Linked DNA regions of Homo sapiens: region 1 is linked to region 2. The links come from fine-mapping of genetic effects on gene expression. Tissue or cell type: aorta. Region 2 holds a variant in brackets; the other region holds the start of a gene. All regions are shown on one strand. Distances are between the middles of the regions.

Region 1 (8,098 bases), 30 kb after region 2:
TCATGGTCATTCATGGCTGCTCCAGGTCTCTGCCTGCCTTTCCTGTTCTTCCCGGTGACAAGGCCGTCTGCCTTTTCTGTCTAGTCCAAAGAAGTCTTTAAATTTAATTTAATTAATTAATTAATTAATTTATTTATTTATTTTTAGCAGCAGGGTTTCACTATGTTGCCCAAGCTGGTTTTATACTCCTGGCTTCAAGCAATCCTCCTGCTTTGGCCTCCCAAAGTGCTGGGACCACAGGTGTGAGCCACCATGCCACGCCCAAAGAAGTCTTAATGATAGACCCTTCAGCTTGTAAGGAGGTCTTGGACAGTTACCATCCCTCTCTGGGCCTCAGTTTCCTCATTTGTACAATGGGTGGCCTCTTTTGCTAGCACTGTGTGATCGGGCTTTTTACAGGGGGATGACACACCATACCTGGACATCATAGGGACTGCTCAGCTCTTCACACTCCAGTGCCCACTGGTGACAAAGACGCACGCTGACCTCAGGGCCTGAAGATATGGTCACCCGAATAGCCCGGGCCTCAGGCAGCAAATCAAAGGAGAACTCGGGTCCTGGGGAGAGGAAGGACTCAGTGGCCTTGTCTCTTGGCCTTAGCACTGGTACCACCACTCAGCTGAACCCATCTCCTGTTGTACCCAGTGCCCACCTCCATGCCTTTGTGAGTCCAATCTGGGAAGACTTTCCCATGTCTCTGGATCCGAAGGTTGGGTCCTTTTAGAGCGAAGTCCCTTGTGGGAGATGTCTGGGGAGGGGATGGAAATGTGATGGCTCTTCTCAGACAGGTGACGACGAGGCAGCAGCTTCCTCTAAAGGCAGAGAACAAGGTTGGCCTCAGGCCAGAAATCAGGAAACCTGGCTTCTGTTTCTGCCTCTGGAACCTGAGGTACTACAGGCAAGTTGCTCAAACTCTTTTGGCCTCCCTAGCTGTGTAATAGACAGAATACTTCATCTCCACACTTTCTGTCTCACATGGCTGGAGAACCAAATGAGAGGCCAGAAAGCAAAGGTCTGTGGGGCGTCAGGTAGGGCTGGAACTGACAGGGAGAGTACCTGAGCAGGTGCTGGCATCTTGTGTCTCCTATAGAACTTGAATGTGGAAGACTTTTTGGATTTCTGCACCAGGAGGTGGAAGAGGCCCCGTTGAAGACCTGTGCAGGGGAGACGTACTTACTATCTAGCCCTCATTACCCCCTCCCCTGCCTGGAGATGTGGCCCAGTGTTAGTAAGTAATTTTATTTTATTTTATTTATTTATTTATTTTGATATGGAGTTTTGCTCTTTGTTGCCCAGGCTGGAGAGCAATGGCGCGATCTCGGCTCACTGCAGCCTCCACCTCCCAAGTTCAAGTGATTCTCCTGCCTCAGCCTCCCAAGTAGCTGGGATTACAGGCATGTGCCACCATGCCCGGCTAATTTTGTATCTTTAGTGGAGACGGGGTTTCTGCGTGTTGGTCAGGCTGGTCTCGAACTCCCAACCTCAGGTGATCCGCCCGCCTCGGCCTCCCAAAGTGCTGGGATTACAGGCATGAGCCGGCCTGATAGTAAGTCGTTTTAAATCAAGGAGGGTAAGGATGTCAAGCTTCTTTAATCTTGAAAATTATAAAGCAATCAAGAAAAGATTAATTTCTTAAGCAGAGAAAAAGCTATATATACAAAGATATTCATTTTAGCATTCTTTAATTTTTATTTTTTGGAGACGGAGCCTTGCTCTGTCACGCAGGCTGGAGTGCAGCGGCGCGATCTTGGCTCACTGCAATCTCCGCCTCCTGGCTTCAAGCGATTCTCCTGCCTCAGCCCCCAGAGTAGCTGGGACTACAGACGCCTGCCACCACGCCCAGCTAATTTTTTGTACTTTTAGTAGAGACGGGGTTTCACCATGTTAGCCAGGATGGTCTCGATCTCCTGATCTCAAGATCTGCCCACCTCAGCCTCCCAAAGTGCTGGGATTACAGGCGTGAGCCACCACGCCAGTCCCTGCCTCTCTCTCTTTTCTTTCTTTCCTTCATTCCTTCCTTTGTTCCTTCCTTCCTTCGTTCCTTCCTTCCTTCCTTCCTTTCTTGACAGGATTTTGCTCTGTCATGGAGGCTGGAGTGCAGTGGCACAATCACTGCTCACTGCAGTCTTGAACTCTTGGGCTTAAGCAATCCTCTCACCTCAGCCTCCTGAGTAGCTGGGATTACAGGCATGCACCATCACACCTGGCTAATTTTTGTATTTTTAGTAGAGACGGGGTTTCACCATGTTGGCCAGGCTGGTCTCAAACTCCTGACCTCAGGTGATCTGCCCGCCTCAGCCTCCCAAAGTACTGGGATTACCGGCATAAGCCACTGTGCCCAGCCCTGTAGCATTATTTCTAACAACAAACAATTAGAAAAATTAAACACTGCCTATTCTTTTTTTTTTTTTTTTTTTTTTTTTGAGACAGGGTCTCACACTGTCATCCAGGCTGGAGTGCAGTGGCGCTATCTTAACTCACTGCAACCTCCACCTCCTGAATTCAGGTGATCCTCCCACCTCAGCTTCCCAAGTAGCTGGGACTTCAGGTGTGCACTACCACATCCAGCTAATTTTTGTATTTTTTTGTAGAGATGGGGTTTGGCCATGTTGGCCAGGCTGGTCTCAAACTCCAGGACTCAAGCGATCCACCCACCTTGGCCTCCCAGAGTGCTGGGATTACAGGTGTGAACCATCATACCTGGCCCAGAAACTGCCAATTCTTTTTTTGGAGATGGAGTTTTGCTCTTGTCGCCCAGGCTGGAGTGCAATGGCATGATGTCGGCTCACTGCAACCTCCACCTCCTGGGTTCAAGTGATTTTCCTGCCTCAGCCTCCTGAGCAGCTGGGATTACAGGTGCCTGCCACCAGGCCCTGCTAATTTTTTGTATTTTTAGTGGAGACAGGGGTTTCACAATGTTGTCCAGACTGGTCTCGAATTCCTGACCTCAGGTGATCAGGCTGCTTCAGCCTCCCAAAGTGTTGGGATTACAGGCGTGAGCCACCGCGCCTGGCCTAGAAACTGCCAATTCTTAAGCAATGTAAGGGCATTTAGTATGTACCAGGCACTGAGCTGAGCAATTAAAATATAGAGTAAGAAAGAAGATCCTGCTCTACAAATAGATGGTAATAACAATAAATCCATAGCTTTTAATTCCAAGAATCTCAGCTGAAAAAAAACCTTCATAAAATTGTACAATTGTATTTGTGAATATCAGTCATAGCGTGCTATTTTAGGATAATCCAAGTCCCAGTTGAGGTTAAAACAAGACAAATATCTGTTCTAGTAAGTCCCACTTGCTCAGCCTAGGTGGTCCCTCAAAATGTTCTCTTCACTGAGAATGGCCCAAGGGGCTGTTTCTCATACCTGAGCCACCTGACAGCAGATGCTGGCACAAACAGCGGGAACAGTGCCAGACTCGCACACACCAAGGCTTTGTGGAGAAGAGGGCCCACCAGGTGCGGCAAGGGATATAGGCAGAACTTCCTGGGAAAGATGGAAGGGAAAGCAAATGATAGGGTCTAAGAAGGTCCCTCCTACCTCCAACAAGCTGGATTTGAGGCCAAGCTCTGTCACATCCTGGAAGTATGACTTTGGGGGTTACAGGACCTGTCTAAGGATCAGATTCCTCATTCATAAAGCGGGTCTGTTATAAAAATCAAAATTGTAGTGTATGGGAAAATGTCTTGTGAAGTAGAACATACCATAAAATAGGAAGGATTATTGTTGTATTACTGATAGAAGTGAGGGATCAGTTAAGGGGAGGAGCCAACATATATGGAGAACCTGGAGATTTACTCATGTTTCTCATCTAATCCTCTCTACAGATCAGAAGCAACACTGCCTTTAGTGTACAATCATTTCTACTATGCTACTACCCCTCAGAAACTGAGGGTCAGTTGGAGGGGTTAGGTGCACAGTCTGAGGCCACACGGGAGTCTGGCAGAACTGCAATGTGAACCCAGGCTTGTCATGATTCCAAATTTTTCCTTGATATTGTGCTACTTCCCGGGTTGGGAACTGAAAATTAGAATGGAGGGCTTGCTAGGCATCTGCAAAAATAGTGGGCGTGGGGAGGAGCAATGGGGCAGGAAATGCGACTCACCAGTGAAACTGTCATCCTGAGGCACAGGGCCCAGTAGGGAAAAGAAAGGAAAGAGCTATTATTAGGAGAGACTCCCATAAGGCACATTCCTGGGGTCTTTGCTTCAAATCAGCAAATTCTGAGCCCCATAGCTAATAGCCCATACCTTCTGGCTCTTATCTTCCCAGCTCCACCCTGTCCAGGCCCTCAGCACAAAGGACCTTGGCTACCCCTTTGAGACTAGGTAGAGGACACATCAAAGCTGCCACCAGAGCACAGGGACTGCGGAGGTAGCACAGGGCAGGCAGGGGAGTGGGGAGCTTTATGGCTGTGCCAGGCAGGTGTCCCTACCTGGCAGCAGCACCTTACCGTGTGGGAGGCCAGAGGACAGCGGGTGTTCCAGTGGGGCAGGTGGCGAAAGCCAATCCCAGCAGAGTCAGAGAGGTCGATGACTATGAGGAGGAGAGGCAGGAGCAGGGCTGCCAGTCTGGAGCTCCCCATGGGCTTCTGTGCAATTAGGGCTCCCGGAACATGGCTGCATGGCCTGAAGGTGGGTGGCAGGGCCTTGCTGTGCAGCAGCGAACACAGTACCAGCAGGAGCCCTCGCCCCAGCCTGCCCTGGCCCCGCCCTGCCCGAAAGCTCCTCCTTGATCCCAACCAGCCAGCCAGGCCACATTCCTTCCCCTCCAAGTGGAGGGACTGAGGAAAGCTTGTGCCCCCAAAAACCCTACTGCCCCCCACCTGAAAGACAAGGGGCTCCTGCTGTGGGTGAGAAGTAACAGGAAAGGGGCTAGCATCAGGTTGGGGGACGCACCCATTTCTTAGCCCCTCCTACTCCTGAAACACACTGCAGATCTGATCCACCCATCAGCACACTCTGGAACTTGTGTCTCCCATAGACATGCGCTTCACCCCCTCACTTAGAGAATTAGCCGAGCTCTTAAGCACTACTCAGCACTGGGTGCTGGAGATACAGAGGTGACTGAGGCACCATTTAGAGTGGGGAAGAAAAAAAGCACTCTAGGATGCACATGAAGCCCATATGTACCCTGGCTTCCCAACTGGTTAACTCTCAGGACTATAGCCGAGTTCTCTCTACCCATGAGCCAGGTCCAGCTCTTCTAGGCAAAGGGCTCCATACCAAAGGGGCCTCTAGCTTCAAGGACCCACTAGTCAGTACGCCCTGCTCAGGAAGCCCCAGAGCTCACAGCTGAGCCCTGGAGCAGAGGGAGCGGGCCCCACACACTGACCTGGTTTCCTGTGGTTTCCGGTGCTGGAGAAAGGCTGACGAGGCTCCATCTTTGTGGGAACCCTCCCCATCATCCCACAGCTTCCTCCCCTTCATGGAGCATTTGAGCAGCTTCAGCCCTCACCTTGGTAACACACACACTGGAAAGAAAGTTTGGGGCACACCTACCAGGTCAAGGCATCTTTTTTTTTTTTTTTTTTTTTTTTTTTGAGACTGAGTCTTGCTCTATTACCCAGGCTGGAGTGCCGTGGCACAATCTCTGCTCACTGCAACCTCCACCTGCTGGGTTCAACCGATTCTCTTGCCTCAGCCTCCTGAGTAGCTGGGAGTACAGGCACCTGCCCCATGCCTGGCTAATTTTTGTATTTTAGTAGAGACAGGGTTTCACCATATTGGCCAGGCTGGTCTCGAACTCCTGACTATGTGATCCACCTACCTTGGCCTCCCAAAGTGCTGGGATTACAAGCGTGAGCCACGGCGCCCAGCCAAGGCATCTTGAGATTGTTATTGTCCCCCTGCAATTCAATCTAGACCACCTTTCAGTGGCCTAACCACAGCCTGCTTTTGGCCAATTCTATTCCTGTCTTTAGGTTCATTGTCTGAAGGCTGCATCCTACCCATTATCCTAAAAGTACCCTCTAGCTTTTTGAGTTCATGAAAAGATAAAAACTCTTATTCTTTATGTTTCTCCAAGCCTAGCAGTAGATATTATGAAGTATGTGCTGTGTAATTGAATAAATGTCATGATACATTTCATCTATGTAGTTTATCTGTTTCACACTTCACAAAACACTTTTATATTTAATCCTCCTAACCCTACCTGTGAGACAGGTAAGTGTTAATTATTGTTTTCATTTCATAGAGAGATAAGGAAGCAGAGGGATAATGATTTGGACAAGGTCAAAGTCTATAGTTCAGGGAGCTCCCCTTTTGCTAGGCCCTCGCAACTCAACTCTCTCTTTTTTTTTTTTTTTTTTGAGACAGAGTCTCACTGTGTCACCCAAGCTGGAGTGCAAATGGTGCAATCTCAGGTCACTGCAATCTCCACCTCCCAGGTTCAAACGATTCTCCCGCCTCAGCCTCCCGAGTAGCTGGGATTACAGGTGCACGCCACCACACCAGACTAATTTTTGTATTTTTAGTAGAGACGGGTTTCACCATGTTGGCCAGGCTGGTCCTGGACTCCTGACCTAAGGTGATCTGAGCCCAGCTTGGCCTCCCAAAGTGCTGGGATTACAGGCATGAACCACAGCACCTGGCTTTTTTTTTTTTTTTTTTTTTTTGAGATAGTCTTGCTCTGTTGCCCAGGCTGGAGTGCAGTGGTGTGTTCTTGGCTCACTGCAACCTCCGCCTCCTAGGTTCAAGTGATTCTTGTGCCTTAGCCTCCTGAGTAGCTGGGATTACAGCTGTGCACCACTATGCCTGGCTAATTTTTGTATTTTTAGTAGAGACAGGGTTTTGCCACATTGGCCAGGCTGGTCTTGAACTCTTGGCCTCAAGTGATCCACCTGCTTCAACCTTCCAAAGTGCTAGGATTATGGGCATGAGCCACTGTGCCCGGTACCAATTCTCTATCATCCTATGGTCTTCCCTCACACAGCCTCATCTTCCTCTGCTCTTGGAACCCAAAAGGGGCTGCCTGACACAGACCCTAACACAGTATGCCTTTTGGCCTTGAAGTCCATCTCTGCAAACAAAACAGTAAGATCTGAAAGGAGGAAAGGGTGGTCTGGCCATACTAAGAATAGGTTAGAGAGCCTTCCCCCAAATTCTACCTAACTCACAGTGGTTTAGAGCTATATAAATATGAGGTTTCTTTCTTTTCTTTTTTTTTTTTTGAGACAGAGTCTCACTCTATCACCCAAGCTGGAGGACAATGGCGCAATCACCACTTACTGCAGCCTCAACCTCCTGGACTCAAGTGAATCCTCCCTTCACAGGCACACACCATTTTGCCTGGCTACATATAGGGTCTGGCTATGGTGCTCAAGCTGGTCTCAAACTCCTGGCCTCTAGCAGTTATCCTGCCTCAGCTTCCCAAGGTGCTAGGATTACAGGTGTGAGCCACTGTGTCTGGCCAATAATGAGTTTTCTTTTTTTTTTTTTGAGACGGAGTCTTGCTCTGTTGCCCAGGCTGGAGTGCAGTGGTGCGATCTCGGCTCACTGCAAGCTCCGCCTCCCAGGTTCACGCCATTCTCTTGCCTCAGCCTCCCGAGCAGCTGGGACTACAGGCACCCGCCACCTCACCCGGCTAATTTTTTGCGTTTTTAGTAGAGAGGGGGTTTCACCGTGTTAGCCAGGATGGTCTCAATCTGCTGACCTTGTGATCCGCCCACCTCGGCCTCCCAAAGTGCTGGGATTACAGGCGTGAGCCACTGCGCCCGGCCCAAATAATGAGTTTTCTAATGCTGGAGGCATGAAGTGAGAAACTTGGTTCTATTCCAAAACAATCCTTCTTCTTTACCCTTATCTTCTGATCTCTCACAGAGAAAATATTGGTTAATTGCTTCTGGTTAAGGTATGGGAGGAGAAGCAGAAAAGAAATGGAGATAAGAAGGAAGAGAGGAAGGGAAAAAAAGGAAGGAAGGAAAGAAGGGAGGGAGGGAAGAAAGGAGGGAGGGAGAGAAGGCAGCAGGGAGGGAAGGAGGAAGGGAGGAAAGAAGGGAGGGAGGGAGGAAGGGACGGAGGAAGAGAGGAAGGGAGGGAAGGAGGATGGGAGGAGAGAAGAGAGGGAAAGAGGGAAGAAAGGGAAGAAAAACAGCATT
Region 2 (8,090 bases):
ATAGACCCAAAAGAATGGAAAACAGGTGTTCAAACGAAAACTTGTAGACAATGTTCATAGCAGCACTATTCACAACAGCCAAAAGGTAGAAACAATGCAGATGTCCATCAACTGATGCATGGTTAAACAAAATGTGGTACAGCCAAATGAGAATATTATTCAGCCATAAAAAGGAATAAGTATTGATATATGCTACGGTATGGGTGAACCTTGAAAACATTATGCTAAGTGAAACTAGCCAGACACAAAAGGCCACATATTTTATGATTCCAATGAAATCAGCAAATCCATAATTTCTGCTTGACTAACACAAATTAGTGATTGCCAAGAGCCGAGGGAAGGGGAGAATAGGGAGTGGCTGTGTAATAGGTATAGGATTTTTTGGGGGGGTAATGAAAATGTTCTGGAACTACATAGTGGTGATGGTTACACAACATTGTAAATATTATTAAATGTCTTTAATGGGAAATTTTTTATGTGTATTTTACCACAAATATATACATATATATATATATATACGCATATATATACGCACATATATATACGCAGACATATATGCACATATATATACACACACATATATATATACACACACACATATATATACACACATATATAAATATTTGATGTCTTATATCCTGTATTTAAAGGGTCTGGCACAGTGCCTGGCATATAGGAGGTGATTTAAAAAAGCAAGCAACGCAGGAGCCATTACAAAGCTGGAAGTGCCTCTGGGGTTGTCTTAGCCAATCCCCTCATTCCTGAATGAGGAAACTCAGGCCCGGCGAAGGAAAAGAGAAAATGACCAATGTTACATAATAACAAAACCTTTATTTCTAGTGGGCATCCCAGTTAAGCCTTTTCCACACTTCTATGAAATAGGCAAACCAGGTATTAATATCCCCATTTTACAGGTGAAGAAACTGTGGCTCTGAGAGGTTAAGAACCGACAACCAGGTCTAACTCTGAGCCTTTGCTGACTCCTCTTCCATCTGACTTTGAAAAGCTGGAGGGCTCAGGGCTCGCCTTTCTGTATCCTTCCCATGCCTTTCTTTACATACTGACTATATAAATGGCTTTCTGTATTACATATATTGACTATATAATGGCTTTCTGTATCCTTCCCATGGCTTTCTTTACATACTGACTATATAATGACAACTCTCAAATTCCTGTTTCCAATTCCTACTCTTTTCTGAATTCCAGATTTGTATGGAGTCTACCTGGATGTCTAATGGACATTTCAGCCCAATACGTTCAAAGAACACCACATCCCACCCCTCCCCTAAACCTTCTCGGTTTCGCATCTCACCATCTTAGAAAACAGCTGCACTACTCACCCAGTTGCTCAGGCCCAAAATCTAGTAAGCATCTTTTATTCTACTGTTTCTCTATACCCATAATGAATCTATCACCAGGTCCTATTGTTCTCTCTGCAAAATATACCCAGACTGTGACCTCTTCATCATGTCCTCCACTAGATACCACACTAGCTTGTGTTGCCTTTGTACCTAGATGATGCACTTGCCTCCCAAACTGGTCTCCCTGCTTCCTCCGCCCTTGCCCCTTACAATCCGTTTGCTACATAGCAGTGTGAGTAATCTTTAAAGGTGTAGAGAAGACAGTATCACTTTTTCTGCTCATAGCCTTCCAAGAGCTTCCCATTACACTCCAAAAAAAATCTAAACTCTTTTCTGTAGCCCTCGAGGCTTAAGCCTTTGCCTTCACCTTCTAGCACTCTCCCCTTGGCTCACTCCACTCCAGCCACTTCTCAAATACACCAAGCTCAGTCCCATCCTCTGCCCAATTCCCTCCCTGTCACATAGCTCGCTTCTTCACTTCCTGTCTCTCTGTTCAAATGCCAAACCTTGAACACCTTGCCTCCCACCGTCCTGCAGTCTACCGTGCTTCACTGTTTGTTCTTCATCTGACATAATATTATTCACTTACTCATTCACTGCTTGTCTTCTCTACTAGAATGTGAGCTCCAGGAAGGGGGCATTTTGCTTGCCTTGTTTACTGCTATACTATAGATGTTCAGTGCTATTTGTTGAATGAATAAGTGCTCCCCAAGAGTTCCTAGCCCTACACCAGCAGAGCAGAGATTTGGCGGGGAGGGGAATATACACCCCTTCCCCCAGCAGCCCCTTACCTGTCTTTGTATTTGGACAAATTCTCTTCCTCCCAGGCAGTGTTTCCACCTCCAAAGTTGTCCCGGATGGTTCTCTCCAGGCCCTGGAAACAGAAAATTAGTAATAGCTAAGTACAGTGCCTGGCACATGCTAGCACTTCACTGTTCTACTGACTAGGAAACTGAGGCACAGAAAGGCAACCTGCCTAGGGCCATACAACTAGTAAGAGACCAAGATGAAACTTAAATCCACGCAGATTTGCATCCCAGAGTTCCCCACTCTAAATCGCTGTGTTCCCCTCTAACGAGGCTGCCGGTGCACCCACCTTGTTAAAGCTGTCAACCAGTCCCCGGCAGGTATGACACGGATGGGGCTGAGGCGGGGGAGAAGACTGGGGAGGTGGAGAGGGCTGGAGCCAGATAGGTCCTGGGAGGTTGAGGAAGAGGCTGAGGCCCCAGAGCATAGCTGGGACTAGGCCCTTCGGGGGCCATGGGGCCATCTTTACCCAGGCTGGGGACCTGCAGATAGAGGGCGTGGAGAGGCTTCACTGAAGGAGTCAGGCCCCACGCGAGAAAGAAAAAGGTCTGTTCTAAGGTGCCGTGGCGCTGGGATCTGCGTTATTACAAGCAAAAGAGGCCAAACTGGGTATTGCAGGGGCTGTGGGGATGGGTGGGGAAAGGCGCATAAGATGCAATTCCAGAAGAGAAATAAGTTATCCTCGCTAGCATGGGGTGGAGAGGAAAGTGGCCTCGCTCCTTGACAAGGGGGCAGAAGTCAGCCTCTTGTCTGAGGGTCTGATAAAGAATATTAGGGGCCGGATCCGCAGAATTAGGGAGAAGAGATCAGATTCCAAGTACTGAAGGAGAGGAGGCCAGAGGGGTTGTCTTGGGGGAGGTGTCCGGAACCCCGGGCTTGGAGGGAGGAGCCCGGATCCGGATATGAAGGGAAGGGATCAGATTCAGGGCCTCGCAGAAGGGCAAAGGCACGGCCCACGAGCCGGCAGAGAAGGATCCAGACCCTCGTAGGCCACGGAGAAGGAAGAAGCGACCGCCCCAGCCCGCGGGCGCCGTGGGCCGTCTCCTCACCGCGTCGCTGCCACAGCCTGCGTAAAACGCACAACCCCCACCCGCGCCGCAGTCCAGGGGGCGGAGCTTGCCGCCCAGCCAATGGCGACGGGCCATGTGCCATTACGTCACCCCACGCCAGCCAACCAGAGGCGGCACCGAGCTGCACCT[G/C]TCCGGGCTTTAAAGGGCCGCGGGGCTAGGGAATGACGTTTGCCAGCCCCGCCACTGAAACGGAGACGCGTGTGGGCCACATGGGTAGAAAAACAGCGTCTGCCTTTATTTAAGTCCCGTCCCCCGCCCCAGGTCCCGCGCCTGGTCCCACCCCGCGTCCCGGCGCGGGAGTCCCCGGGGGATGGAAGTAGCTATCCAGGGCTGGCTGAAGGGCCCGGGACACTTGCTCCGCTCTCTCTTGGAGCCGCCCGGAACGCGGGGCGCGAGGCTGCTGCAGGGCCCCCAGGAAGTCTGGCAGTTGGGAGGGCAGTGTGAAGACGGGCACGGTGCGGAAAAGGGCGGGTACGGCGTCCGGGTGGAGCAGCCTGTCGAAGCAGGCCCCCACGTAGCTGCCGGGCGCCCGGCCCTGCAAGAAGTCGGGCAGCACGCAGCTGAGCGAGGCGCGGAAGGCGTCGTGCGGGCCGTGCGCCCCGGGCCCGGACACCCCATCCTGTAGCCACTCGCTGCACAGCGCCACCGCACCGGGAGAGAAGAGCAAGACCACCACGCCGCCCTCCTGCAGGGTCTGGCGCCGCTGCGCGTGAAACCAAGCCACGGGCCCCTGCGCGCTCAGTTCACGACGGCTCCACAGGTCTACGGCCACGCGCAGCGGCAGCTGGCACAGGGCCGACGCCAGGGCGCCCACCAGGCGCTCGAAACCCGAGTCATCGGCTGAGTAGAGGAGCAGAGCCGCGCGGCCCCTGGCGGCCGCTGCCGGAGAAAACAGATGGGGAGGGAAGAGGTGAGCTGGCACAGGCCTGGCTCCCCGGGGGCGGCCCTCCGCCCAGCGCTTGCTCCCACTCACCCCCCGAGCGGACGTCCTGTTTCAAGAGCCTCAGCCACCCTGTTAGGGGAGAGGGGCGGAGGCAGCCAGTGAGCTCGGCCGCCGCTTTCCCTCGGAGAACTCCCACAGCCACTCTGGTCCTCCCCCAGGGGAATGGGGAGCCGGGAAGCGCTCACCTTTCGCGTGATCCTTTTTGAGAAGGAGGATGAGGGAAAGCGCAGCGGCAAAGAGTAGGCAGGCCAGCCACACGAGGGCCCAGCGCTTGTGGATGTCTGGGAGACCCAGAGAAGAAGAGTTAGAAACTTACCCTCCACAGAGAAGAAAAACTGAGACTTAACAGAAATGAATTGGGCCGGGTGCGGTGGCTCATGCCTTTATATAATCCCAGCACTTCGGGAGGCCGAGGCGGGCAGATCACGAGGTCAGGACATCAAGACCATCCTGGCTAACACGGTGAAACCCCGTCTCTACTAAAAATACAAAAAATTAGCCGGGCGTGGTGGCACACGCCTGTAATCCCAGCTACTCGGGAGGCTGAGGCAAGAGAATCGCTTGAACTCGGGAGGCAGAGGTTGCAGTGAGCCGAGATCGCGCCATTGCACTCCAGCCTGGGCGACAGGGTGAGACTCCTCTCAAAACAAAACAAAACAAAACAAAAAACGAAGAAATGATTTGCCCAGAGTCCACAGCACAGTGTCAGAGCCAGTGGATGAATATAGCTCCATCTGTTTAGGGGTCTTTGAATAAGTAATGTCACCCTCTGCCTCAGTTTTCTCCTCTGTAAAGTTGTACCTGTGTCATAGGGTTGGTGTGAGGACTAAATATATTAATACATATAAAGCTTAACACAATGTGTTAATACATACTTAACACAATGCCGAGCATCTTAAGTGCTAAAATGTCAGCTGTTTTTCTCCCCTAAGCTAGGGTTGCTGGGCCCTTGATCTTGCTGTCCTGGGTGTCTGCAACTACCTGGTGTCCCTGCCCTGTCTTTTTTTTTTTTTTTTTACCTCCAATTGATTTGCCTTGAATTGATTCATGACAGCCTCAGAGATCTTTTAAAAATATAAATTTGGGCCAGGTGCGGTGACTCACGACTATAATCCCAGCACTTTGGGAGGCCGACGCGGGCGGATCACGAGGTCAGGAGTTCAAGACCAGCCTGGCCAAGATGGTGAAACCCCATCTCTACTAAAAATACAAAAATTAGCAGGGCATGGTGGCAGGCGCCTATTAATCCCAGCTACCCGGGAGGCTGAGGTAGAGAATTGCTTGAACCCGGGAGGCAGAGGTTGCAGTTAGCCGAGATCGCGCCATTGCACTCCAGCCTGGGCAACAGAGTGAGACTCTGCCTCAAAAATAAATAAAAAAATAAGTATATATATATATATATATATATATATATATATGTGTGTGTGTGTGTGTGAAATATATAAAAATTTGATCGTAGCTCCTGCTGCTCTCAACATAAGATCCAAATCCCCTACATGTCTCCTGCATCTTTATCTCATGACAGAAACCTGCCTGTCCAAGACCCTGTATCTCTACCCCCTTCCCCTAGCTCAGTCTTCAGAGTTTTGCTGGAACCTTCCCCCTGAGCCCCTCACCCCTCACCCCACCCAGGTCAGGTCCACATTGTATGCATTTACAGCACTGAACACTTGGTGGTGCTTCAGTAGCTCCCACTTTAAATGTAAGTGACTGGCTCATGTCTTGCTAGTCTTCTAGGGGTGGGGCGGGGGCAAGGATTTATATTTTTGGTGTTCCTGCGATCCCTGCAAGCTCTCATCATTTTTTGAGTGAATGAAGGAATGACCCTCTGTTTATCTGATCTCAGGGAAGGACAAGGCCATTGCATGTGCTGTGCCCAAGAGTGGTCCCTGTCAAGATCCCCACTCCTGGTACAGAAAGGAAAGGCAGTTCTTACAATACTCACATTTGTCCATGGGGCAGGCCCATAGCGCTCCCAAGTCATCGTCCCATAGCTGTAAGATACAAACAGAACCAAATCCAGGGCACCAGCCAGGTGTTCCAATATTCACCAAGCTCTGGTGGCCTGATCTCCAAATTCCCAGCATCAACTATGCATATCTCCCGGCTAAGGTTCCTGCAGCTGCTCTGCCTTTGTGCTGTGCCCACTGACTAGGGTATGACTTCTTCCATACCAAATCTGGCTTATAGGAAGAAATTCTTCCCGGAAGCTCTCCCTGGAACCCAAAACTTAGCACCTGTAGGTGTGGTTATCTGTTTATGGGTGTCTAGCCAACAGTGTGCTCCTTGGGGATAGGAACTGTGCTTCTTCTACTCTTAACTTTCCCAGGGCTGAACATAAAATAAGCCTAAATAGACAGTAGGTGAGTGCTAGTTTTAGGCCTGTTGCCCCTAGGCATTGAGGTGGGGCCCTTCTTCCACCAGCTCACCTGCAGACACTGGCCTGACTGCAGGTCTTGTAGTAAGTACTCTCCAAGGCGAGCTGCCCTCTGCCAAGCCAAAGGATGGGGGCACTGTTACCTGGAGGTAGCACCCTTAGGGCAGCACCTACCAGGCTACAGCTGGGTAGAATGAGGTAGAGGGGACTGGGAGACTTTGGTGATGCCGCTGAATATGGCCCTGGTCTGAGTCACCCCCCATGTTCCCAGAGACCGGCACAGGGTGGATGGAGTGAAAATTTGAGGCCAGATGTGAGATGCATTTGGAGAGATCTGTGGAGGAGGGTCGCCCAGTCCTAACCGTGGAGGCTTTGCTGGGTAGTGAAGTACAGCCACTGGGTTCCAAGGCACAGAGGGATCTGTTGTCCTGGGGGCCTCGTGTCTCCAACAGTAGCACATCGTCTTTGAGAGGCCCCAGGGAGTCTGGAAGGGGTGAGAGGCCACTCTGACCAAGACCCATCCTTGCTGGGATTGGCCACTTGCCTGCCTCCCATGCCCTGACCTTCACCCCTAGGAGGTGGCCCTGCCCCAGCTGCCCCCAGGCCCAACTCACCAGCCCACAAGCACTCCTGCAGCTGCAGCTTCTCCGAGCTGTTCACCTGCTGGGAAGAGACCATGGTTAGGGCCACTAAGAAAAGCAAAAGCCAAAGGCAGAAAGACCAGAATGGGGCAGGCAACAGAAGGCCTGTTGGGTTGGGAATCTGCACTCAATCTGACCTGAGGCAGATGTGGATTCAAGGCTGGGTGATTAGGAATCACTACATCTTTCTCTGCCCCAGCCTTGTGAGATCATCTGTATAAAGCGTCTTCTGACCCTAAAGCTGTTTTTATGTCTTACGGAGCATGGTTCCCCTCTCATCTAACCTTCTCAAAGAGATTCCTTTCTCACATGACCACCCTGCTAAAAATTGCAACCCCAGTCCCACCTTATCCCTTTCCCATGGTATTTGTATGCAATTTTAAGATACTATATGATTTATTTACAATGTCTGTTGCCTGCCTTTCTCCATTACAATATAAGTTCTATGAGGGTAGAGATGTTAGGGTCTATCACAAGTGCCTAAAACAGTGACTTGTGCTGCTCAAAAAATCTTGAATGAGTGAATTTTTTTTTTTTTTGAGACGGAGTTTCACTCTGTCGCCCAGTCTCACTCTGTCACCCAGGCTGGAGTGCAGTGGCGCCCTCTCAGCTCACTGCAAGCTCAGCCTCCCAGGTTCACGCCATTCTCCTGCCCCAGCCTTCCTAGTAGCTGGGACTACAGGTGCCCACCACCACGACCGGCTAATTTTTTGTATTTTTAGTAGAGATGGGGTTTCACCATGTTAGCCAGGATGGTCTTGATGTCCTGACCTCGTGATCTGCCCGCCTCGGCCTCCCAAAGTGCTGGGATTACAGGCGTGAGCCACCGCGCCTGGCCGGATGAGTGAATGTTCTTATAATCACCCTTTGAAACTGTAGAGCAACCCATTC

The links. PIP is the estimated chance that this variant, and not a neighbour inherited with it, causes the effect.
Region 1: it holds the start of IL17RE, and the variant in region 2 is fine-mapped to the expression of IL17RE in aorta (GTEx, PIP 0.98).

Annotation. Positions count from the first base shown.
Region 1 is chr3:9,899,420-9,907,517 of GRCh38, reverse strand. It overlaps IL17RE (interleukin 17 receptor E), which reads right to left and starts at 4,670. Exons shown (of 16, transcript NM_153480.2): 1 at 4,454-4,670; 2 at 4,106-4,121; 3 at 3,367-3,486; 4 at 1,057-1,154; 5 at 653-812; 6 at 418-557. The coding sequence starts at 4,585. RefSeq lists an enhancer at 3,797-4,466.
Region 2 is chr3:9,928,980-9,937,069 of GRCh38, reverse strand. IL17RC (interleukin 17 receptor C) reads right to left here. Exons shown (of 19, transcript NM_153460.4): 13 at 7,173-7,218; 14 at 6,921-7,042; 15 at 6,611-6,670; 16 at 6,127-6,175; 17 at 4,367-4,462; 18 at 4,212-4,250; 19 at 3,449-4,117. The coding sequence ends at 3,477. It overlaps CRELD1 (CRELD disulfide isomerase 1), which reads right to left and starts at 3,236. Exons shown (of 11, transcript NM_001077415.3): 1 at 3,150-3,236; 2 at 2,458-2,650; 3 at 2,153-2,235. The coding sequence starts at 2,631. RefSeq lists an enhancer at 2,825-3,194 and silencers at 3,295-3,624, 4,205-4,264. The variant G/C (reference allele first, on the strand shown) is at 3,368.